Homo sapiens: one gene and its partners. The protein of the gene in region 2 interacts with the protein of the main gene of each other region in a pairwise test. Each region holds a gene or a part of one and is shown on either strand. Other genes may lie near its edges.

Region 1 (3,500 bases), on a different chromosome or scaffold from region 2:
CTGCCTCAGCTTCCGGAGTAGCTGGGATTACAGGCATGTGCCACCACACCCGGCTAATTTTGTATTTTTAGTAGAGACGGGGTTTCTCCATGTTGGTCATGCTGGTCTTGAAATCCGGACCTCAGGTGATCTGCTCGCCTCGGCCTCCCAAAGTGTTGGGATTACAGGCGTGAGCCACCGCACCCAGCCTATCTCAAGGTTTGAGGGAGGTGGTGGTCACGAGCGTCAGAGGCCCCCTGGGGGTCTGGCGAGGCTCGGGGGCTTCGTGGAGTAGCTAGTGGGGGCGTCTGTGGAAGTTCTGGTGGGTCTGGGGGCTCTGTGGAGGGTTGGGGGACTGTGGCATTCTAAGGAGGGTCTGGGGGACTGTGGGATTCTAAGGAGGATCTTGGGGACTGTGGGATTCTAAGGAGGGTCTGGGGGACTGTGGGGCTCTATGAAGGGCCCAGCACCCCCCGCCTCGCCCTGCCCGTGGCACCTGGCTCTCCGCCGGTGGGTCGTACTGTCGCAGCTGCCCCAGGAACTCCAGGTGGCGCTTCTCCTCCTCCAGCTGGGCCACGGACTCCTCGCTGGCCCGAAGCCGCCGCTGCGTCTCCTCCAGTTCCTCCCGCAGCCACACGTTCTCCTGGGCCAGCCGCCGGGCCTGCGAGCGCAGCCGCTGCTTCTCTGCCTCCAGTGCACCCACATGTGCCGACAGGGCCAGCAGCACCTGCCCGGGGTGGGGGTCCCAAGTCGAGGTTGGTTCCTGCCCTGCCAGACGGCCCCTGACCCAGCCCAGGCCTCGAGTCAGGCCGTAGCACCCCACTACTATGCACGACACCCCCAGATTCTGCAGAGACTCTGCCAACATGGCCCCAGTGCCCTCAGAGGCTCCCAGGGGCCCCTCTGATTTTACCCCCAAACTTGCCCTAGGACCCACAGTTTACTGAAGAATGCCATCTGGTTCAGGGGTCCCTGTCACACACAAGGACCCCCTAAAGCTGCCAAGGGACTCCATCTCTGACCTGGAGCCTCCCCTTCCCAGGCCTGGTTCCCCTAGGCCTCCCCCTGCCCCGGATGTGCCTCTCTGCCATACTTTTTTCTGTTGTTTTTTGGGACAGTCTCTCTCTGTCACCCAGACTGGAGTGGAATGGCACGATCTCCACTCACTGCAACCTCCGCCTCCCAGGTTCAAGCGATTCTCATGCCTCAGCCTCCTGAGTAGCCGGGATTACAGGAGCCCTCATGCCCAGCTACTTTTTGTATTTTTAGTAGAGATGGGGTTTTCCCATGTTGGCCAGGCTGGTCTTGAACTCCTGACCTCAAGTGATCTGCCCACCTCAGCCTCCCAAAGTGTGCCCCTCTGCAATAGTGAACCCTCTCCCAGTCCCCTACATACCTGTCCCCCTCATGCCTGGCCCTCCCTCCGCCCTCAGCTGACCTTCCCCCAGCTCCCCACCTGGCCCCCTCATACCTGGGCCTCGCCCAGCCCCAGCTCGATGGCCTCCAGCGAGTGGCTCACCACCTGCTGCTTTTCCTCCAGCATCTCCAAGCCGGCTGCCGGGCCCTGTCCCGCCAGGGCCTCCGCCAGGTGCCCAGCCAGGCCATGGTGCTCTGCCCGCAGCGCCTCCAGCCCCTGGACCACTTGCCGCGTCTGCCGCACCAGCTCCTCAGGGCTCAGGCGCTCTGGGCCCAGCCCTGCACTTCCAGGAGCCGCTACCTGCACAGACATTGCTGCTCCTGGGGAGCAATGGTGAGGGGTTTGGGGAATCATTGCCCGGGCCAGTCAGTTGGCCCCCAGCCTCTATTCCCATAATGGCCATCAGGACCCCTAACTTCTCCCCATCCTGGCTCTTCCCTGCTCCACCCATCCTGGCCAGCCCTCTGCCTCCACACCCTCTCCATCCCAGTCTCCACACCCATCCCAGCCAGCTCTCATCTGGAACAGTCTTGTCTACCTTCGTCTGTCCTCCCAACCCAGGGTTCTGCCCTGAGGACAGTTCCCAAATCCTATGTGTAATTAACCAAGAGAAAGCAAACAGCTAGCCTGGGGTCCCCCATCTGCCCTCAGCTCACCTGGCCAGCCTTCCCCACCCCAAGGCCCTTGGATCCCCTGGCCCAGAGCTCCCGGTTGGCCGTGTGACCTGGGACCAGAGGCACCCTCCTCTGCCGGCAGAGTGAGGCGGGGCGTGTGGAGGCGGCAGCCTCTGCGTGAGCTCATTCTTAGGGTGTTTTTGTCGGGAACCAGTCAGACCACTGGGGGTGGGTGGGGTGGGAGGAGAGGGCCGAGGGGCCAGGGCCCCCAGAAGCCCAGGAGGCCTCTAGGTTGGGGGGAATGAGGATGGGGCCATGTGTTGGCTCCCAGGCAACAGATGGACCCTGGGGGAACAGGGGCTCCGCCCTCCTCCATCGGACAAGCTTAGCCAGCCCAGGGCCTGTCGGGACACACGTGTGATAGGTGTGGTCCAGGTATGTCACACTGGCCATGTGACAGCTGAGAGTCTGAAGCCCAGCTCATAGTGGGTGGGGGCCCCCCTCTATGGGACTTCATGTGGTTGTATGTGGGTGACAAGGTCACAGAAACTTAGCTGGTGGTGCCTCTGGGGTCCTCATATACACACAAACACACTCCTCAGAAACACCTCACACACCCGCACCCTCCCTTCTTAAAGACACAATGCAACATACACATTTTCCTCTCCGAAATACAATTTGACACACACACGCACTCTCCCTTCTCTCCAATACAACATGGGGCCAGGTGTAGTGGCTCACGCCTGTAATGCCAGCACTTTGGGAGGCCAAGGTGGGTAAATCACTTGAGGCCAAGAGTTCAAGACCAGCCTGGCCAACAGGGTGAAACCCTGTCTCTACTGGAAAAAAAAAAAAAAAAATAGCAGAGCATGGTGGCGCATGCCTGTAGTCCCAGCTACTTGGGAGGCTGAGGCAGGAGAATTGCTTGAACCCGGGAGGCGGAGGTTGCAGTGAGCCAAGGTCGCACCACTGCAATCCAGCCTGGGCAACAGAGTGAGACTTCATTTAAAAAAAAAAAAAAAAAAGACGGTACACACACACACCCTCCCAGAAATACAGTTACACACACACACACACACACACACTCCCTCATTAGAAACACAATGTAGGCCGGGTGCGGTGGCTCACACCTGTACTCCGAGCACTTTGGGATTTTGGCTGAGGCAGGAGGATCACTTGAGCCCAGGAGTTCAAGACCAGCCTGGGAAACATAGTGAGACCCCATCCCTACAAAAATAAAAATAAAAAAATTAGCTGGGTGTGGTGATGGTGTACCTGGAGGCTGAGGTAGAAGGATTGCTTGAACCCAGGAGGTTGAAGCTGCAGTGAGCCATGATAGTGCCACTGCACTCAGCCTGGGTGAAAGAGTAAGACCCAGTCAAAAAAGAAAGAAAGAAAGGACAGCATAATATACATTCTCCTCTTAGAACACGCACTCACTTTCTCCTATTAAATATACAACTCAGTAAAAACATTTACATTTTCCTTTT
Region 2 (3,500 bases):
GATTGGGCCTATCACTAGCCCTTAATTCCAATTCCTTGCATTTCTTTTCATCTTAGCATTTACCATTTTTTAAGGTCTACTACCAGTGATGATCCTTGTAAAGAGAGATACAGGACACAATTTAGGAAAGAATATCCCAAGCCTACTCTCTGACAATGTGATCAGATCCTCCTCACCTGTATTTGTTCCTCCTAGAGTGAACCCAGTGGCAGGTTTAGATCCAAAGAGCCCGGTTCCAAAACCACTTGAAGGAGCAGATGTAGTTGCTGGAGTTGAAGTACTTCCAAGATTTCCAAAATTGAGCCCCACAGAAGGGTTGCTTATTTAAAGAAACAAAAACAAAACAAAAATCACATGCACAAAAGGAGGTCTACTAGAGCCAATATTTACTTAAGAAAAATAAAAATTAACTCTTCAAGATAATTTCATTCACATAACATATCTAATACATTGTCATAGGACCCAAAAAGAAAAATAAATTTACCTTTAACCCATCAAGTTCAAATATGTTTCTGTTCTTCCTTAAAAATAAATCCACATGTAAAAGTAGTCTTAAAAAAAAATAAATCCACATGTAAAAGTAGTCTTAAAAAATACAATACCAGATTTCAGGCTGGGTGTGGTGGCTCATGCCTGTAATTCCAGCACTTTGGGAGGCCGAGGCAGGTGGATCACAAGGTCAGGAGTTCGAGACCAGCCTGACCAACAGGGTGAAACCTCGTCTCTTCCAAAAATACAAAAATTAGCCAGGTGTGGTGGTGGCACACGCCTGTAATTCCAGCTACTCAGGAGGCTGAGGCAGGAGAATTGCTTGAACCCGGGAGGCAGGTCGCAGTCAGCTGAGATAGTGTCACTGCACTCCAGTTTGAGTGACAGAGCGAGACTCCCTCTCAAAAAAAAAAAAAAAAAAAAATACAATACCAGATTTCAAGAAAAGCAGTCTACAGCAATAAGGATTCCAGATCTCAAGGTAATCATAAGTAGGGATCACAATTATTCTGCTTTCACCAATGTTTGAAACCTAGCATATTTTTAAATGGTCATAGAAAAGTTATTTTAAATTATCTTCACTAGCTTTCCATTGCTACATTACCACATTCATGGGGCAATGTGGTGTTGGGGAGAGTATAGACTTAGGTATTTTACCACCAAAAAAAGCATAGAAAAACTAGTGGGGACATTTCCTGGCAAAAGTTAAACGCAAAGCAAAATCACCCTGTCTCAGGATCATGTATTCATTAACAGAAACTCTTCAGAGCACAGTGCAAAGCTTAAAAAAAGAACAGCTGATAAAAACAAGTGAAAGTGAACAAACTTCACAACTTTTCAACTACTCTTATCAAGACTCAGGGGTTCAGATTTGCTATGAAAAGGTGGGAAGACAAACTGTGAAAATAAGCAAATTTTGACAAGTTGACACTTCCAAAATTATGTAGGAGATTTAAGGGAGACTATACAGCATAATGGCAAATTCTCTTTATCCTACATATTTATCTTTATTATTTCCTTTGCTGCCCTTCCATAAAGAATAATCACCATGGGAGAACCCAATGTCATTTTTAAAGTCTCAAAAGCCCTGGCAGCAGTAGTGTGGCTGGGTTCCAGTACCAATCCCCCCATGTTCTGGTACTTGTGTGCCATTACTTAACCTTTCTGAGCCTCTATTTCCTCATCTGCAAAACAGGAATTAACAGTACCCACTTAGCAGATTTTTTTTTTTTTTTTTTTTTTGAGACGGAGTCTCACTCTGTTGCCCAGGCTGGAGTGCAGTGGCACTCCGCAAGCTCCGGCTCCCGGGTTCACCCCATTCTCCTACCTCAGCCTCCGGAGTAGCTCAGACTATAGGTGCCTGCCACCACACCCAGCTAATTTTTTGTATTTTTACTAGAGACAGGGTTTCACCATGTTAGCCAGGATGGTCTCAATCTCCTGACCTCGTGATCCACCTGCCTCGGCCTCCCAAAGTGCTGGGATTACAGGCGTGAGCCACCGCACCCGGCCAGCAGAATTTTTTTTTAAATATAAGGGTTCAGAGCACAGGATGAATTAACTTCAATAAATGTTGTTATGACTGTTATCATTAGGGATACTTATAAATTTAACTAAACATATTATGTACAAGGCGTTATGCCAGGAATAGCAAGGGAGCAGAAAGATGTCCCCTAGTCAAGGAACATGCCGTTTACCAGGGGGATAAACAACACAAATAACTGTACTCCAAGCCAGAAGAGTTCTCCAAGTTACTTGGGTCCGGGTGTCTTCAATTTCATAATCAGCTTAAGAAGCCACTCAAATTTTTGCAAACACTGGGAGACAAGGAGGAAAAGAAATACTCAAGCAGGAGATAATTCAAGCAGTAGAAATGTACACACCTTCAGTAAGTTTAGAATTACTATAAGTAAGATTATAATCAAGTACCAAACGATGGCAAAGAGATACTGCAGAAGTTTGAGGCAAAGAGCTAATCACTGTGAGGGGAATGGAGGTGGAGGAGCTTATTAAGGGTAGAACTTGAGATGTGCCATCCATACTGAGTAGGTAAAAGGAGAAGTACTGATTTTTAAAATGTGTTTGTGTGCACCTTGGGCATATGAAGGCGAGGCAGGAGACAAAGCAGGGCGGTAAGCTCTCGCTAACAATTAAAACACAGATCTTGACCAGGCCGGGTGGCTCACACCTGTAATCCCAGCACTTTGGGAGGTTGAGGTAGGCAGACTGCTTGAGCCCAGAAGCTTGAGCCCAGCCTGGGCCACATGGTGAAACTCTCTCTACCGAAAAAACAACAACAAAAAACTTCCAAAAAACAAAAATTAGCCAGGCGTGCCAATGCACACCTGAATGTAATCCCAGCTACTCAGGAAGCTGAGGTGGAAAGATCACTTTAGCCCAGGAGGTGGAGGTTGTAGCGGGCTGAGATTGCGCCACTGCATTCCAGCCTGGGAGACAGGGCAAGGCCCTGTCTCAAAAAAAAAAAAAAAAAAAAAAAAAAAAAAACCCCACAGATCTTTAAACATTTAGTCTTAATTTAAAAGGTATTTTTAACAACATATTGCTACAATCAAAACTAAGTGAGATCACACACACAGAAACCTAAGTGAGCGCTACAAGCAAAAGAATATAGTATGTAATGGCTATATCCAGACAACATAGGTAGTACAACCATAAAAGGGGCATATATGCCAAAACATTTAGCTTAGCTGGTAGTAGTCTGATCGTATTGTTATTTTGACACTGTTGTGTGTATAATGTGGAGTAGGGTAAATGAGTATTTGGGGGATACTAAAACATTACTGCCGGCTGGGTGTGGTGGCTCACGCCTGTAATCCCAGCACCTTGGGATGCCAAGGTGGATGGATCACCTGAAGTCAGGAGTTTGAGACCAGCCTGGCCAACATGGTGAAACCCCATCTCTACTAAAAATACCAAAAATAAAAATAAAAAATTTAGCCGGGTGTGGTGGCGTGCCTGTAATCCCAGCTATTTGGGAGGCTGAGGCAGGA
Region 3 (3,019 bases), on a different chromosome or scaffold from region 2:
GGTGGCGCAAGCCTGTAATACCAGCTACTCGGGAGGCTGAGGCAGGAGAATCGCTTGAACCTGGGAGGCGGAGTTTGCAGTGAGCCGAGATCGCGCCATTGCACTCCAGCCTGGGCAACAAGAGCGAAACTCCATCTCAAAATAATAATAATAATAATAATAATAATAATAATAATAATAATAATAAACTTAATCCTAAGGGCCAGGCGGGGTGGCTCACGGCCGTAATCCCGGCACTTTGGGGGGCTGTGGAGGGCGGATCACTTGAGGTCAGGAGTTTGAGACCAACCTGGCCAACATGACTAAAAATACAAAAATTAGCCTGGCGTGGTGGTGCGTGCCTGTAATTCCAGCTACTCAGGAGGCTGAGGCAGGAGGATCACTTGAACCCAGGAGGCAGAGGCTGCAGTGAGCCGAGATCACCACACTGCACTCCAGCCTGGGTGACAGAGGGAGATTCCCTCTCAAAAAAATAAAATAAAGGCCGGGTGTGGTGGCTCACGCCTGTAATCCCAGCACTTTGGGAGGCTGAGGTGGGCGGATCACGAGGTCAGGAGATCGAGACCATCCTGGCTAACATGGTGAAACCCTGTCTCTACTAAAAATACAAAAAAATTAGCCGGGCGTGGTGGCGGGCGCCTGTAGTCCCAGCTACTCGGGAGGCTGAGGCAGGAGAATGGCGTGAACCCGGGAGGTGGGGCTTGCAGTGAGCCGAGATCGTGCCACTGCAATCCAGCCTGGGCGACACAGCGAGACTCGGTCTCAAAAAAAAATAAAACAAAATAAACTTAATCCTGAGAGGGTCTTTACCACTCTCCGTTAACAGATGAAGCCACTGACGCTGAGGTTCAGTGACTTGCCCAAGAGCCACCCAGCTAATAAGAGGCAGAGTCTGACCGTCCTCTACTGCTGGATCTTTCAGGGTTTACTGAGCACTTAACTATGTGCTAGCAGCACTGTGGGAAGACCAGGACAGGAGAGGGCTGGAGGAAGATTGCATGAAATGGGTGCATTCTTTTTTTCTTTTGAGATGGAGTCTCACTCTGTCATCCAGGCTGGATGGAGTGTGTTGGCAAGATCTCAGCTCACTGCAACCTCCACCTCCTGGGTTAAGCCATTCTCCTGCCTCAGTCTCCCGAGTAGCTGGAATTACAGGCGTGTGCCACCATGCCCGGCTAATTTTTGTATTTTTAGTAGAGACAGGGTTTCACCATGTTGGCCAGGCTGGTCTCGAACTCCTGGCCTCAGGTGATCTGCCCGCCTTGGCCTCCCAACGTGCCTCGCTGAGATGGGTGGATTCTGGGGTCCAGCTCTTGAGCAGTTCCCTGACACACTGAAGGAGCTTCCTGTGCCACACTTACAGCCTTTCTGCTTTTCCCCCAAGACGAAGAGCTGCCCCTGCCACTGGACCTGCCTCCTCCTCCACCCCTGGATGGAGATGAATTGGGGCTGCCTCCACCCCCACCAGGATTTGGGCCTGATGAGCCCAGCTGGGTGCCTGCCTCATACTTGGAGAAAGGTACCTGACTTCTGGGACTGAGGGGCACCGGATCCCACTTCCTCTGTTGCCCTGATCCCCATTCTCCTCCCTCTGCAAAGGTGTGAATCTATCCCCCGGGCCCCCCACACAATTTTTCTGACGAACTGACAGAACTGGGGAGAGGGCAGCTGGCCTGGTATTAAATATTAACTAAGCTGGGGAGGGGTCCTGAAGGCTTGCAAGAAGGCCCCCAAGATGGCCCCTAGAGTCTAGTACTTGAGACCGTGCATCCCCATGGTGGTGGGGGGTGAGGGGGAGAGGGCAAGAGGCATTATCTCACGGCACCCTCTTCTCTTGCCCTGCAGTGGTGACACTGTACCCATACACCAGCCAGAAGGACAATGAGCTCTCCTTCTCTGAGGGCACTGTCATCTGTGTCACTCGCCGCTACTCCGATGGCTGGTGCGAGGGCGTCAGCTCAGAGGGGACTGGATTCTTCCCTGGGAACTATGTGGAGCCCAGCTGCTGACAGCCCAGGGCTCTCTGGGCAGCTGATGTCTGCACTGAGTGGGTTTCATGAGCCCCAAGCCAAAACCAGCTCCAGTCACAGCTGGACTGGGTCTGCCCACCTCTTGGGCTGTGAGCTGTGTTCTGTCCTTCCTCCCATCGGAGGGAGAAGGGGTCCTGGGGAGAGAGAATTTATCCAGAGGCCTGCTGCAGATGGGGAAGAGCTGGAAACCAAGAAGTTTGTCAACAGAGGACCCCTACTCCATGCAGGACAGGGTCTCCTGCTGCAAGTCCCAACTTTGAATAAAACAGATGATGTCCTGTGACTGCCCCACAGAGATAAGGGGCCAGGAGGGATTGAAAGGCATCCCAGTTCTAAGGCTGCTGCTAATTACAGCCCCCAACCTCCAACCCACCAGCTGACCTAGAAGCAGCATCTTCCCATTTCCTCAGTACCCACAAAGTGCAGCCCACATTGGACCCCAGACACCCCTCTGCAGCCATTGACTGCAACTTGTTCTTTTGCCCATTGCTTGCTGTGTGTGTGGTGTGTTCATATGTGGCTGGGCACTTGCCCAAGAGTGGGAACGATCTCCATGACTTAAGCGGGGCTCTCCGAGAGCACCTCACTGTCAACTCTGAGACTGTCGCGAGAGAGATCTCAGTCATTTCTTCCCCCTTCACCTCCTTTATAGTTGTAAAACACCAGAGGAAGGAGGGGCTTGGGTTTCGCTGGTTCTGCTTAAAAACATGGCTTTCTGTTCCATGGGGGGTGGGGGGGATGCGTGGAAGGCCCAGCCCGCGAGGGTGACTTTGGTGAAGTCCCTGGTCTCTTGCTGCATAGACGAGGCTGGGATGCAAGGAGACACCGTCACTCTCTGCGAGGTTACTGGCTGTCCGGACCCGAGCCGGACGGTGCGCTACCTCGTACCACCACCAGGAGGCGATTGTTCCTCTGGCTTTTCCTTTGGGGGTGCTAGAAGGGAGTGCGGGGGTCGGGAGGCAAGAGAGTGTGGACAGCACAGAAATAGT
Region 4 (3,971 bases), on a different chromosome or scaffold from region 2:
TACATTTCACTTGAGGAAACTTAAGTCATGAAATTTGCTCAAGATTCCACAGTTGATATGTGTGGCTGCATGAATAATGTTTTTTTAGTTAGGCCTAGCTTTATACCCTTAGCCCATCCCTTAGTAGCAGTTAATTTAAATGTTTCGATCTGTTGTGGGGTTAATAGTATTTTCTAGTAGAATCGTGAGCATTAAATAAGTGGTAAACTGGCCAGGCGCGATGGCTCACGCCTGTAATCCCAGGACTTTGGGAGGCCAGAGTGGGCGGATCACTTGAGGCCAGGAGTTCAAGACCTGGCGTAACCCAGTCTGTACTAAAAATACAAAAATTAGCCAGGCGTGGTGGCATACACCTGTAATCCCAGCTACTTGGGTGGCTGAGGCACAAGAATCACTTGAATCAAGGAGACAGAGGTGGCAGTGATCCTAAGTAGGTAAACTGCTTAAGAGGGTCTGGCAAATAGCAGCTGGAATTAAATTTGGTCCTGTAGACTCCAAAGTCATGCTCTTTACCACTGCACTATATACTCTGTGAAAAGAGCCAGTTAATTTATGCCCAAGCTGGGGCTGGGCGCGGTGGCTCACACCTGTAATCCCAGCACTTCGGGAGGCCGAGGCAGGCGGATCACCTGAGGTCAGGAGTTCGAAACCAGCCTGACCAAGATGGCGAAACCCCATCTCTACTAAAAATACAAAATTAGCTGGGCGTGGGGGTGCACGCCTGCAATCCCAGCTACTCGGGAAGCTGAGGCAGGAGAATTGCTTGAACCCGGGAGGCAGAGGTTGCGGTGAGCCAAGGTAGTGCCACTGCACTCCAGCCTAGGCAACAAGAGCAAAACTCTATCTCAAAAAAAAAAAAAAAAAAAAGGCCGGGGGCGGTAGCTCACACCTGTAATCCCAGCACTTTGGGAGTCCAAGGCAGTTGGATCACAAGGTCAGGAGATTAAGACCATCCTGGCTGACACGGTGAAACCCCGTCTCTACTAAAAACACAAAAAAATTAGCCGGGCATGGTGGCAGGTGCCTGCAGTCCCAGCTACTCAGGAGGCCGAGGCAGGAGAATGGCGTGAACCCAGGAGACGGAGCTTGCAGTGAGCAGAGATGGTGCCTCTGCACCCCAGCCTGGGTGACAGAGCGAGACTCCGTCTAAACAAAAAAAAAATTATGTCCAGGCTATGGAATGGTAGGTCTTTCAGATAATCTGATCCAGCTAAAGTTAAGTGGATAGGCTCTGGAGTCAGAAGGCCTCAGGCATTTCCCTGGCCCACCAATGGGGCTGTCCCACTACAACTCAGTATCTCTTCACTCTAGTTAACACCATGTCTTCTAAGATCCTGTACATAGTCTTGTTCTAAGTATTAAGAGGAGATACAAAGGAAGAATAATAAATTCATTTAACAAATAATTACTGAGCATCTACTATTTAACAGATCCAGTTCTAGGTGCTGGGAATACAGCAATGCTCCCATTTAGTGGGGAATGCAAAGGAGGTCTTGCTTTTTAAGGGAGGGGAAGCAGGGCCTCCAACACACACCTTTTCTGTTAGGATGACTAGTGTGCCGCTCCATCTGAACACCAACAGGTGTGGTGCCTGGGAAAGAATCATAGCATCAGATGATCAACAATCCATGTTAGTATTTTCACTATGATAATTTCCTAAGTTGTCTCCAGCAGATCTCAGCCTGTTCCAATCTGCAGAGGAAAAAGTAGGAAACTCTATTTCATGGCCAAACAGGTGACTGTTCTTGAACTGTTGGTGCTCTCACGGCCCCTTCACTAGTTTGGAAAACAGTTTTCCTTTAGTGCTTCCTTTTTTTTCTGGACAAAATAGTAATTTAACCAAACCCAAACCTTAAACGTCTCTGACGAACAGGCAGTTACTTTCCGTGTTCTCACCATGTTTAATTTCCACGGTATGATAAGTCCTTCTCCTATCCCGAATGGTAATTTTAAAACTCTGGCTCCCCATCATCTCTAACTAAGACTCAGGACAGCGGGAGAGGGATGGATGTGGGGGAAAAAAATCTCAAAGCACCACAGGGAATACTTTTTTTTTTTTTTTTGAGATGGAGTCTCGCTCTGTCGCCAGGCTGGAGTGCAGTGACACGATGTCGGCTCACTGCAACCTCCGTCTCCAGGGTTCAAGCGATTCTCCTGCCTCAGCCTCCTGAGTAGCTGGGATTACAGGCGCGCGCCACCACGCCCGGCTAATTTTTGTATTTTTAGTAGAGACGGGGTTTCGCCATGTTGGCCACGCTGGTCTCGAACTCCTGACCTCAGGTGATCCACCCGCCTCGGCCTCCCAAAGTGCTGGGATTACAGGCGTGAGCCACAGCGCCCGGCGGAAATACTTGGGAAAATATTTTAGATAGGATAACTTAAGGAAACGCAAGCCATCACCCTCCGGTACTGCTCACAGCCTCACTGAAAGCATTTCCTAAGAAGGGAAAAGTCCACATACAGCCATTAGTCCAGAGGCGATAAACCACAACTCCCAGTGTGCCCGGAAAAAGGCTGCGCAGTCCGGCCCGGTAAGACTACAACTCCCACTTCACCCTGCGCCAAGCCGGCAGGTCTTTCCCCCATGTGCTGGCTGGAGTCCCGCCTCTCTAGTCCACCTGTTGCTAAGGCTAGACCAAAAGAGTGGGAACTGTGAAGCCTTTCTTAGCCTTCACGGTCCGATAGGAGCCGAGTCGCAATACACAGTTTAACGACCTCACCTGCGGTGTTAACCGAAAGCCGCAACCCCAGCACCCAACCCTAGAGTTGACACACATGCGTAGTGGTGTGCTGGCCAACTGCCAGAGCCTTGGCGCCTGCGCCGACGTTCGCGCTGCACGCGGCCGGGAGCGGCCACCCTACTGCGCAAGCGCCTGTGCCCTCCCAGTGCCTTCGTCGTGCGCTCTCTGTCTAACTTGTCTGGCCGTTCTTGCGTAGGGGGCGGGACTAAGGCTGTCAATTGGTCTGTTTTTGTGCCGATCAATGAGATGGGTGCGGTGATTGGCGACTACCTTGAGAGTAGCGGGTTGAGGTGTAAGCCCTGAGGAGGCAGCGTTTTCTGGGCTTCTGTCTGGTTCTCTCTCTCCAGAAGGTTCTGCCGGTTCCCCCAGCTCTGGGTACCCGGCTCTGCATCGCGTCGCCATGATGGGCCATCGTCCAGTGCTCGTGCTCAGTGAGTTCTGGGGATGCCAGGAAATGGACCCCCTTTTCGCCCTCTTCTGTCCATACTTTTCAGTGTTGCCCCAGCTCCGTCCCCCACTGACCGGGCCACTGAGCCTTCCAATCATCGTCTTCATTTTGGAAGCCCAGTGTCCCGCTTTCCTCTCTTCTCTTAACCTGTTCGCTTCTCTGCACAAACTCAAACTGGCCTTATTCTCGCCGAGCCTCTTTCCTTGACGTGTGCTCGTCTTGGGAAGCTCTTTCCCACTCCGCGTTCTGTCCCTCAGCCCCCACGCTTCCCCCGCCCCTGCGCCCTTTCTAGCCTGATTGTCGCTATGTAGCTGCACGAATAACGTTTTTTTTTGTTTTTTTTTCAGTTAGGTCTAGCTTTATATTCTTGGCCCATCCCTTAGTAGCGGTAATTTAAATGTTTCAATCTGTATTACGGAGTTAACAGTATTTCCTAGTAGAATTGTGAGAATTAAATGAGGTAAGTCGGTAGACTGCTTAAAGAGGGTCTGGTAAATAGGTAATATCCTTGGTCACTTTACGTTACATTTATTTTCAGTAACAGTCTCTTGAACAGCAATCCCTTTTCCCGAAGTAACCGTACTTGCCTCACTGATCTTAGATGTAATCGTTCCCTCCGTGTCCCCGGCGTTGTACTCTTTCCCACTAACCAGTTGGGTTTTCCCAGATTTCTCGACTGGTCACCTTTTCCTTTTGGAAGATCCCTTATTTTTTTTCTTTTTATATTTTGAGACAAAGTCTCGCTCTGTCACCCAGGCTGGGTTGCAGTGGCGCGATCTCTG
Region 5 (3,500 bases), on a different chromosome or scaffold from region 2:
CTCCTGAGCTCAAGTGATCCTCCCACCTCAGCCTCCCAAAATACTGGGATTTCAGGTGTGAGCCATTTTACCTGGCCCCATAATGCTAATATTGGTTCATGCTAATATTTCATGAACTGTTTTTTCTTTTTTTTCTTTGAGATGGAGTTTCACTCTTGTTGCCCAGGCTGGAGTGCTGTGGCGCTATCTTGGCTCATTGCAACCTCCGCCTCCCGGGTTCAAGCAATTCTCCTGCCTCAGCCTCCTGAGTAGCTGGGGTTACAGGCATGTGCCACCACGCCCGGCTAATTTTGTATTTTTAGTAGAGGCAGGGTTTCTCCATGTTGGTCAGGCTGGTCTTGAACTCCCGACCTCAGGTGATCCGCCCGCCTCGGCTTCCCAAAGTGCTGGGATTACAGGCGTGAGCCACAGCGCTCGGCCTTTTTTTTTATTTTTGAGATGGAGTTTCGCTCTGTCACCCAGACTGGAGTGCAGTGGTGCAGTCTCAACTTACTGCAACCTCTGCGTCCTAGGTTCAAGCAATTCTCATGCCTCAGCTTCCCAAGTAGATGGGACTACAGGCATGTGCCACCACGCCTGGCTAATTTTTATATTTTTTTAGTAGAGACGTGGTTTCGCTCTGTTGGCTAGGCTGGTCTGGAACGCCTGACCTCAAGTGATCCGCCCACCTCCGCCTCCCAAAGTGTTGGGATTATAGGCGTGAGCCACGGCATCTGAGTGCATGAACTATTTAAAGGGCCAGTCATTGATCTAAATGTCCTGTGGGTTAATTCACTGACCGCCCTTGGGTTTATGCAGCAGGTTCTAGCCATAGCCCATTTTACAGATAGGACCAGTGAGGATCTTAGGGAATTAGAGAATTTAGGGAACTTGCTAACGGTTGCACAGCCAGGAAGTATAGGCAGCTAAGAAAAGTCTTGCAGCTAGGCATGGGAGCTCACACCTGTAATCTCAGTGCTTTGGGAGGCTGAGGCAGGAGGATCGCTTGAGGCCAGGAGTTTGAGACCAGCCTGGGGAACATAGCGAGACCCTATCTCTATGAAAATAAACAAATAAAAATAAGTGTAGAAATATCTTGCTTTTTCTTTTCTTTTTTTTTTTTGAGACAGAATCTCACTCTGTTGCCCAGGCTGGAGTGCAATGGTGTAATCTCAGCTCACCACAACCTCCGCCTCTCAGGTTCAAGTGATTCTCCTCCCTCAGCCTCCTGAGTAGTTGGGACTACAGGCGGGTGCCACCATGTCCGGCTAATTTTTGTATTTTTAGTAGAGACGGGGTTTCACTATGTTGACCAGGCTGGTCTCGAACTCCTGACCTTGTGATCTGCCCGCCTCGGCCTCCCAAAGTGCTGGGATTACAGGTGTGAGCCACCTCGCCTGGCCGTCTTGGTTTTTCTTTACAAACACGTGGCCAGCCAGATATTCTTATTTCCTCTTAAGAAAACCTAAGTGGAGAATAGCAAGACAGTTACTCAAGATCATTCATATAACCGGTTAGTTGTAAATTCCAACATTGGATCTGACCTCCAGGATGCACCTGTTAGAAGAAGTGGCTTGGGCCAGGCGTGCTGTGGCTCACACCTGTAATCCTAGCGCTTTGGGAGGCAGAGGCAGGCTGATTGCTTGAGGTCAGTAGTTAATAAATAGCCTGGTCCACATGTTGAAACCTCATCTCTACTAAAAATACAAAAATTAGCCAGGCGTGGTGGCACCCACCTATAGTCCCAGCTACTTGGGGGGCTGAGGCAGGAGAACTGCTTGAGCCCGGGAGGTGGAGGTTGCAGGGAGCCCAGATCGTGCCACTGCACTCTAGCCTGAGGGACAGAGCAAGACTCCATCTCAAAAAAAAGAAAAAAGAAAAAGTGGCTTGTAGGAGCTGTGTATGTTCCAGAAGGATGACAAGGACCTGCATATCACCTGCCTCCATGAAGTGCCCAGGAGCTGGGGTGTCCCCTTTCTGAGGGGGCAGCTTACCAGGTGCTGCAATCCGGACCCCATTAACATCGGTCAGCTCCTGGCCCGGTCGCTCTTCAATAATGATCTCCTTGCCGGTCTCCAGACGGAGGTCACATGAAGAGCTGGGGGCAGCCACGTAGAAGGGAATGCCATGGTGCTTGGCGACAATGGCCAGCTGGTAGGTGCCCACCTTGTTGGCTGTGTCGCCGTTGGCAACCACGCGGTCAGCTCCCACGACCACAGCTGGGGAGGGGGCGTATGAGAAGTTGGGGGTCATTACCTGGCCCCATGCTCCAGAGCCCCGCCCCCAGGGCTTACCGTCTGCTTACCTGACACGCCCCTATGGGCCATGGCAGCAGCCACCATGCTGTCGGTGATAAGGGTGGCGGGGATCTGCTCATAGACCAGCTCAAAGGCCGTCAGCCGGGCTCCCTGGTTGTAGGGCCGGGTCTCTGTGCAGAAGGCATGCTCCAGGCGGCCCAGGCTGTGCAGTGAGCGAATCACACCTGCGGGGGCCCCACCCACCAGGAGAAGGCCCCGGGGAGGGGCAAACAGACAGGGTGGTCCATTGGTTAGGGGTGCAGGCTCCTAGTCTGGGCGTGGATTGCCAAAGGCTTACCGAGCACAGTCCCGCCCAGGGGCCCTCGCAGTGGCAGTTCCCTCTGCCTGGTATGCTCTTCCCAATGCTCGCATAGCTCCGTTTCACGTCTGTTTAAAGGACACCTTCTCGGTGAAGCCTTCCCTGATATATCAGTTTTGCATAGCAATCCCCACACTTTCAGTTTCCTGCTCTCTGTCCTTAGCATTTATCACCTTCTAACACCTCATGTGTACAGGCAGCCCCCCTTTTCTATGGGTTCTCCATCCATGGACTCAACCATGTGGATTGAAAATATTTGGGCTGGGCGTGGTGGCTCACGCCTGTAATCCCAGCACTTTGGGAGGCCTAGGCAGATGGATCACGAGGTCAGGAGATCGAGACCATCCTGGCTAACACGGTGAAACCCCATCTCTACTAAAAGTTCAAAAAATTAGCCGGGCGTGGTGGCGGGCACCTGTAGTCCCAGCTACTCGAGAGGCGGAGGCAGGAGAATGGCGTGAACCTGGGAGGCGGAGCTTGCAGTGAGCCGAGACTGCGCCACTGCACTCCAGCCTGGGCAACAGTGCAAGACTCTGTCTCAAAAAAAAAAAAAAAAAAAAAAAAAGGAAAGAAAGAAAATACTTGAAAAGAATCGCTGGAACCCAGGAGGCAGAGGTTGCAAGGAGCCAAGGTCGTGCCATGGCACTCCAGCCTGGGTGACAGAGCAAGACTCTGTCTCCAAAATAAATAAATAAATAAAAAGCAATCCTCCCATCTCAGTCCCCTCCCGAATAGGTGGGACCACAGGTGCATACCACTACACCCAGCTAATTTTAGTATTTTTTGTAGAGATGGGGTTTTGCCATGAAGCCCAGGCTGGTTTTGAACCCCTGAGCTCAAGCGATCCGCCCACCTTGGCCTCCCGAAGTGCTGGCATTACAGGCTTAAAAATAGAGACAGGGTCT
Region 6 (3,500 bases), on a different chromosome or scaffold from region 2:
CAAGGAGGCAGAGTCATGAAGACTGGGGTGGCTGTGGCAGTTTCTTAAAATAAGACAATAATGAAGTTTGCCACATTGATTGACTCTTTTATTTATTTATTTATTTTTTTGGTGAGATGCGAGTTTCGCTCTTGTTGTCCAGGCTGGAGTGCGGTGGCGTGATCTCGGCTCATCACAACCTCCACCTCCCAGGTTCAAGTGATTCTCCTGCCTCAGGCTCCCAAGTAGTGGGATTACAGGCATCTGCCACCAAACCTGGCTAATTTTTGTACTTTTAGTAGAGACGGGGTTTTGCCATGTTGGCCAGGCTGGTCTTGAACTCCTGACCTCAGGTGATCCACCCGCCTTGGCCTCCCAAAGTGCTGCGATTACAGGCGTGAGCCAGCGCACCTGGCCCAATTGATTATTCCTTTCATGAAAGATTTCTCTATGGCATGTGATGCTGTTTGATAGCATTTTACCCAGAGTAGAACTTCTTTCAAAATTGGAGTCAATCCTCTCAAACCCTGCCGCTGCTTTATCAACTAAGTAATGTAATGTAAAGTTATGTAATATTCTCAGTCCTTTGTTGTCATTTCAACAATATTCACAGCGTCTTCAACAGGAGTAGATTCTATCTCAAGAAACCACTTTCTCTGCTCATCTGTGAGAAGCAACTACTCACCCAATCAAGTTTGATCAATAAATTGCAGCAATTTGGTTGCATCTCCAGGCTCCACTTCTAATGCTAGTTCTCTTGCTATTTCTACCACATCTGCAGTTCCCTCCTCCAATGAAGTCTTGAACCCTTCAAAGTGATCCATGAGGGCTGGAATCAGTTTCTTCCAAACTCCTGTTAATGTTGATATTTTGACCTCCTCCCATGAATCATGAATATTCTTAATAGCATCTAGGATGGTGACTCCTTTCCAGAAGGTTTTCAATTGACTTTGCCCAGATCCATCAGAGGAATCACTATCTATGGCAGCTGTAGCTTTATGAAATGTATTTATTAAGTAATAAGACTTGAAAGTCAAAATTACTCCTTGACTTCTGGGTTGTAGAATGGATGTTGTATTTGCAGGCATGAAAAATATTAATCTTCTTGTATATCTCCATGAGAGCTCTTGGGTAACCAGATGCACTGTAATGAGCAGTAATATTTTGAAAGGAATCTTTTTTCTGAGTAGTAGGTCTCACCTGGGCTTAAACTATTCCATAAACTGTGAAAACAGATGTGCTGTCGTCCAGACTTTGTTGTTCCATTTACAGAGCACAGGCAGAGTGTATTTAGTAGCACTGGCTTCAACTTAAAGTCACAAGCTGTACTAACAAGACTCAGCCTGTCCTTTGAAGCTCTGAAGCCAGGCATGGACTTCTCTTCTCCAGCTATGAAAGTCCTAGATGGCATCTTCTTCCAGTAGAAGGCCGTTTCACCTACAGTGAAGCTGTTTGACGTAGCCACCTTCATCAATGAGCGTAGCTAGATCTTCTGGACAGCTTACTGCAGCTTCTCCATTAGCACTCGCTGCTTCACCTTGCACTTTTATGTTATGGAGATGGCTTTTTTCTTTAAACCTCATGAACCAACCTCTGCTAGCTTCACACTTTTCTTCTGCAGCTTCTTCGCCTCTCTCAGCATTCAAAGAATTGAAGAGTTAGGGCCTTGCTCTGGGTTAGCCTGAAAGGAATGTTGTGGCTGGTTTGATCTTCTATCCAGACCACTAAAACTTTCTCCATATCAACAATCAGGATGTCCCACTTTCTTATCATTCATGTTTTCACTGACGTAGCACTTTCATTTCCTTCAGGAACTCTTCCTTTACATTTACATACTTAACTGGTATAAGAGCCCCCTAGCTTTAGGCCTGTCTCGGTTTTGGACATGCCTTCACCGTCATCATTCTAGCTTTGGATTTAAAATGAGAGATGCGCAGCTCTTCCTTTCTCTTGAACACTTTATAGGCCACTATAGGGTTATCAATTGGCCTAATTTCAAAATTGTTGTGTTTCAGGGAATAGGGAGACCCAAGGAGAGGGAGACACAGGAGAGCAGTTGGGACACACACAACACTGATCAAGTTTGACACAGGAGAGCAGTTGGGACACACACAACACTGATCAAGTTTGCTGTCTTATACAGGTGTGGTTCATGGTGCCCCAAAACAATGACAATAGTAGTATCAAAGCTCGCTGATCTCAGAGCACTATAACAGACATAATAGTAAGGAAAAAGTTGGAAATGTTTGAGAATTACCAAAATGTGACATTGAAACACGGAGTGAGTGTGTGCTGTTGGAAGAACAGACTGGCGCTGACAAGACTTGCTCAGCGCCAGGTTGCCACAAACCTTCGATTTGTAAAAACCACCAATTAATTGTGAAACGTAATAAAGCAAAGTACAGTAAAATGAGGGATGCCTGTATGAGGTGTGATAAGGTAACCACGTGACACAGGCCATGCCAAGGCTCCCTTACTTCTCCCCTTCTTCCTGCCATGATTCTAGCTGGAAATAACCAACCTTCGGAATTTGTACCTTCAGGGTATCGGGTTATTACAGCACACACAGCTTTCACCTCTTCCAAAGCCCACCACTAAGCAAAGCTGACAGCCCACAGATTATCAAATGTTTATGTGCACACAGCATCACACTGCACACAGCACACCCCCCACACACAGAGAAAAGGAGAGTTTCTGTGACAAAGTGCTCAGGTAAGAGGAAAACCACTGAAGCCTCACTGCTGCCTGTGGAACACCCTGAACCCCACAGTTGTCCTTCACTCCTGAGGCCGAAAGGAATTCCACAGAATGCCTGGCTGTTGAGAGCCACGCTGTTTCTGGCTGTCACCTGGAAGACAAACTACTGAGCTGGTGCTGGTGGGTGAGTTTCTGGGGCACCCCCTGAAGCAGCTCCCAGGGGAGGGAATCTGAGAGTCCAAATCTGACACTGACATACCCTAATCCTAAACCACCCCTGGCTTCAAGATATCCTATCTGATCTCAGGGAATCCGCCTGGGTGAAACCGGCTGCAAGAACTCAACTCTGAATAAGTACCACACCCCTGACTACCACCCGGGCCCCTCTGGTGTCTCCCTCATTGCCCCTTCTCTCCCTCCCTGTTGGCCACCCATGGCCATGCCAGGAGCAGAGCCCACACTCTGGGAATGTGAGGGAAGTTCAAAGTGGGGTCTGAGTCCCGAGGCTCTACCATCTCCCAGTGTAGCTGGTGACCCCCTTAGTTTTGCGTGGTTTAGAGGACTGCCTGGTGCCCCTCCTCCTCCTTTGACCCGAAGGCCCTCTCTGAGCCAGGTCCCTTTACTTCCACTCTCCTGCCCTGGGTCCAGATGCTGCCTGTTGCCTCCCTCCCCTCAGGACCATTTCTGGGCTTCCTGGCACTAAATCATCACAGCCCCACCCTCACAGCTTGGCTGAGGACCAGGCACCCTCACTGCCTAAGGCACAGGTCCTCTTGTAAAGATCCTGGCTTTCCTACGCCTTCCCACCTAGTTTCAGGCCATGC
Region 7 (3,500 bases), on a different chromosome or scaffold from region 2:
CAAATCTATAATCTTTTTGTCCTTTTGCCTCCTCAGCATTCGTTCATAAGCATAGCGAGCATCACTGTCCGAGGCTGCACAGTGCTTCGTCTTGCGTATGCATCCTGCTTTGTTCACCATGTCTCTGGAGTTACGCATTTACTTGCTTGTTGCTTTCACCACTATAAACCATGCCTCATTTCCCTCTCCTGTTAGGCAGATCTGACCCTTCAGCCTGCCTCTTCCAGCCATGGTCAGACTGTTGTTAGTCCAGCGCCTGAGGGAGAGTACTTTCAGAGTTCCAGGCCCTTGTGTGACCTCCACCCTTAAGGTGACTCTTGGCACCCACAGGCCAATCAGCTGTATTCTTAGAGAGCTCTCAGAATACAGGCTGGTGGGCTATTTCCCTAAGGAAAAGCTGGGTGGGTTCTCACTGGGGTTGGAACCAAGGGGAGATGAGGAAATGGGAATAGGTTGGACGCCCTTGGTGGAGCTTCATAGTTTGATTTTACATCAGAGTTGGAAAGCAAAGCATACCCTTCTGCTACAGCTAGTGGTTTCCCCACCTGCGCCTGAGCTATGGACTGGGCAGGGGCCAAGTGCCCAGCAAGGAGCACAGGGAAGGAGCAGGAGGTGGAGAAGCTCAGAGGCAGGCTGCAGTAGGCTCCTCGCCCTTCTCACCATGCGGATGTCTCCTCCCTTGGCCCTATGGGAATATGGAGGGCTCACATTCTCCTCTCTGTGCAGGAGCAGGTCTCCACACTCTTTGGGAGGAGGAAGTTGACTTCTTTCTAACAGTTGCTGTCCTGTCATTCATTCATTCATTCATTCATTCAGCAAAGGCTTCCTGAGCTCCTGTCCTGTTGCAGGCTTGATTAAGTACTACAGATGTGAAGGTGAATTGACATATTTGGGTTCTTAGAGTTTGCCTTCTAGCAGACCACAAACAAGTAAATATAATGTTGCACGTGGTGCATGCAGGCCTTTGGTGCCCAGGACAGTGAGGGCATGGAGGAGGGAGTGTTGTCTGTGTCTGAGAGCACTGGGCAAGCCTCAAGGGGAGACTGTGCCTGAGGTGCATTTTGGAATGAGTTCACAGGTACGATGGGAATGAAGCTGCCCACATGTACTTGGGAGTTGGGGGAAGAGTGGGGACACTTGACTCTCACAAGAAGCATGGCTCTGAGAAAATCAGAGACCGCGCAGAAGCTGACAGGGCATGTGATGTGGACAAAGGGGCCACCAGGCTGGGAGGCAGGTCTGGTAGACCGAGGAGCAATGGGTTGAAATTAGGGTCGGGACAGAGAGGGCTGCATGAGGAGCAAAGACCATGAAGTCCATGGTCCTCCAACACTGCGACCCTCATGCTGCGGCCTCCCTGTGCCCTCAGCACTCAGCCAGGGCCAGAGGTAGCTCGAGCATGGAGCAGGGGCTGAGGGTGCATGGCTTCCTCATGATGGAGTCTACTTGTTGACAGATGACCCAGAAACTTCTGAAGGGCCCCCAAGGCCCTAATGCAGCCCCCAGAGCAGGCTCTTTCCCTTCCCCTGCAGACTCTCCATTTCATGCCTGGTTAATCCCCAGGAACCACTTTTGACAGGGGAATCCTACGTTTCTCTCTACTGAGCTGTAGAGGCTGCTGCCCATGGGCATTTTCAGCAGAGACCTCAGTCCCTACTCTGCCTCAGGGAGGTGGGCCCTGGAGGATGGTGCCATCCATGCTCCTTGTCTCCTGAGAGGTGGTGCAGTCAGCACACCCATCCCACAGACAGCGGAGGAGGCCTGAGCATCAGGGTCCTGTCTGATGCCAGCTCATGATGCACTGTGCCTGAGTGATGAATGCCCATCTCACTGCCTGTCGCTTCCTCTCTCTGCAGGGCCCTGTGGCCGAGTGTGTCCAGCCCAGTGTCATGGGGAGCTTCCATATCTCATGGCTCCTTGCTGGGCCAAGCCCTCCAGAACCCCAAACCCCCAAAGACTGATGAATGCCAGAGTGGCCACCTTGCTTATCTGTGGCCCCGGCCCTGGTGATCACCATGGCAGCTGGGAAGGGAGCCCCGTTGAGCCCATCGGCTGAAAACAGATGGCGACTTAGCGAACCTGAGCTGGGCCGGGGCTGCAAGCCAGTGCTGCTCGAGAAGACGAACCGCCTGGGCCCTGAGGCTGCTGTGGGCAGGGCGGGCCGGGATGTGGGCAGTGCGGAGCTGGCACTGTTGGTAGCCCCAGGCAAGCCCCGACCTGGCAAGCCGCTGCCCCCGAAGACACGTGGAGAGCAGAGGCAGAGCGCCTTCACGGAGCTGCCGAGGATGAAGGACCGGCAGGTGGATGCTCAGGCCCAGGAGAGGGAGCACGATGACCCCACAGGCCAACCTGGTGCCCCACAGCTGACCCAGAACATCCCCAGAGGCCCAGCTGGCAGCAAAGTCTTCTCTGTGTGGCCCAGCGGAGCACGAAGTGAGCAAAGAAGCGCCTTTAGCAAACCAACCAAGCGACCAGCAGAGAGGCCTGAGCTAACCTCAGTCTTCCCTGCAGGGGAATCTGCAGATGCCCTGGGGGAGCTGTCTGGACTCCTCAACACTACAGACCTCGCTTGTTGGGGTCGACTTTCAACTCCCAAGCTTTTGGTTGGTGATTTGTGGAACTTGCAAGCATTGCCACAGAATGCTCCACTCTGTAGCACTTTTCTGGGTGCCCCTACACTGTGGCTGGAGCATACCCAGGCCCAGGTGCCCCCACCCTCATCATCCTCCACCACTTCGTGGGCCCTCCTGCCACCCACCCTCACCTCCCTGGGCTTGTCCACCCAGAACTGGTGTGCAAAGTGCAACCTGTCCTTTCGCCTAACGTCCGACCTGGTCTTTCACATGCGATCCCACCACAAAAAGGAGCATGCGGGGCCTGACCCACATTCTCAGAAGCGGAGAGAAGAGGCCCTTGCCTGCCCTGTGTGCCAGGAGCACTTCCGGGAGCGCCACCACCTCTCCCGGCACATGACTTCTCACAGCTAGCAGGTGACCGCAGAATGACCTGCTGGGTGCAGCAGCCAGCCTTTGGCAGAGGGGGGCTCCCTGGGCCTGCGTTGAGGGGGCTGTCATGGTCCTTTGCAGAGCTGCTGCTTTTGGCATTCATAGATAAACAGCTCAGGCATAATTTGAAAAAGCCACACCTGCATGATGTGTTTTGAAGGAAATGAAGTCCTGAAATAAAGTGATGGGCTTTGCAAATCCAGGGTAGAGGCCCTAACAGGCACAGAGAGCAGGGGCAACTCCTGGCACACATCATGGGCTTTGGAGGCACACAAGCCTGGATTCGAATCTGGGCTCTTTCACATACTAGCTGTGACCCTGGACAAAGAGCTTTAACCTGCTGAGTCCCCATTTTCTCATCTGTGAAATGGAGATGATAACACTGTGTCTTAGGTTGGCATTCAGGTCACATGAAAGGTGTGTGGAAAGTGGCCAGCATTCTGCCTGCAGACCCTGAGCACTGAGTCAACAAGGTTTGTGATGATGTCTGTACTA

Evidence for each region.
Region 1: the proteins of NUP58 (region 2) and KLC3 interact in binary tests that used the Homo sapiens proteins (3 or more experiments, as listed by UniProt).
Region 3: the proteins of NUP58 (region 2) and ABI3 interact in binary tests that used the Homo sapiens proteins (3 or more experiments, as listed by UniProt).
Region 4: the proteins of NUP58 (region 2) and TSACC interact in binary tests that used the Homo sapiens proteins (3 or more experiments, as listed by UniProt).
Region 5: the proteins of NUP58 (region 2) and MRI1 interact in binary tests that used the Homo sapiens proteins (3 or more experiments, as listed by UniProt).
Region 6: the proteins of NUP58 (region 2) and ELK3 interact in binary tests that used the Homo sapiens proteins (3 or more experiments, as listed by UniProt).
Region 7: the proteins of NUP58 (region 2) and ZNF488 interact in binary tests that used the Homo sapiens proteins (3 or more experiments, as listed by UniProt).

The regions. Positions count from the first base shown.
Region 1 is NC_000019.10:45,343,750-45,347,249, reverse strand, and holds part of KLC3 (kinesin light chain 3), read right to left. Parts: intron 1,717-3,500; 5' UTR 1,709-1,716; coding exon 1,451-1,708; intron 707-1,450; coding exon 476-706; intron 1-475. UniProt on the Homo sapiens protein: Kinesin is a microtubule-associated force-producing protein that may play a role in organelle transport. Plays a role during spermiogenesis in the development of the sperm tail midpiece and in the normal function of spermatozoa.
Region 2 is NC_000013.11:25,304,625-25,308,124, reverse strand, and holds part of NUP58 (nucleoporin p58/p45), read right to left. Parts: intron 522-3,500; exon of another isoform or gene 485-521; intron 320-484; coding exon 177-319; intron 1-176. UniProt on the Homo sapiens protein: Component of the nuclear pore complex, a complex required for the trafficking across the nuclear membrane.
Region 3 is NC_000017.11:49,220,707-49,223,725, forward strand, and holds the end of ABI3 (ABI gene family member 3), read left to right. Parts: intron 1-1,363; coding exon of another isoform or gene 1,364-1,384; coding exon 1,385-1,519; intron 1,520-1,845; coding exon 1,846-2,009; 3' UTR 2,010-2,519; downstream 2,520-3,019. UniProt on the Homo sapiens protein: May inhibit tumor metastasis. In vitro, reduces cell motility.
Region 4 is NC_000001.11:156,337,355-156,341,325, reverse strand, and holds the start of TSACC (TSSK6-activating co-chaperone protein), read right to left. Parts: upstream 2,801-3,971; 5' UTR 2,721-2,800; exon of another isoform or gene 2,587-2,720; coding exon of another isoform or gene 2,556-2,586; exon of another isoform or gene 2,462-2,555; intron 2,425-2,461; exon of another isoform or gene 2,401-2,424; intron 1,693-2,400; 5' UTR 1,592-1,692; coding exon of another isoform or gene 1,569-1,591; coding exon 1,535-1,568; intron 1-1,534. Other genes in the region: CCT3 (T-complex protein 1 subunit gamma), read left to right, coding at 3,142-3,172.
Region 5 is NC_000019.10:13,767,522-13,771,021, reverse strand, and holds part of MRI1 (methylthioribose-1-phosphate isomerase), read right to left. Parts: intron 2,664-3,500; coding exon of another isoform or gene 2,575-2,663; exon of another isoform or gene 2,462-2,574; coding exon 2,285-2,461; intron 2,199-2,284; coding exon 1,974-2,198; intron 1,445-1,973; coding exon of another isoform or gene 1,425-1,444; exon of another isoform or gene 1-1,424.
Region 6 is NC_000012.12:96,249,875-96,253,374, reverse strand, and holds part of ELK3 (ETS domain-containing protein Elk-3), read right to left. Parts: intron 1-3,500. UniProt on the Homo sapiens protein: May be a negative regulator of transcription, but can activate transcription when coexpressed with Ras, Src or Mos. Forms a ternary complex with the serum response factor and the ETS and SRF motifs of the Fos serum response element.
Region 7 is NC_000010.11:47,367,294-47,370,793, reverse strand, and holds part of ZNF488 (zinc finger protein 488), read left to right. Parts: intron 1-1,856; 5' UTR 1,857-1,964; coding exon 1,965-2,987; 3' UTR 2,988-3,500. UniProt on the Homo sapiens protein: Transcriptional repressor. Plays a role in oligodendrocyte differentiation, together with OLIG2. Mediates Notch signaling-activated formation of oligodendrocyte precursors.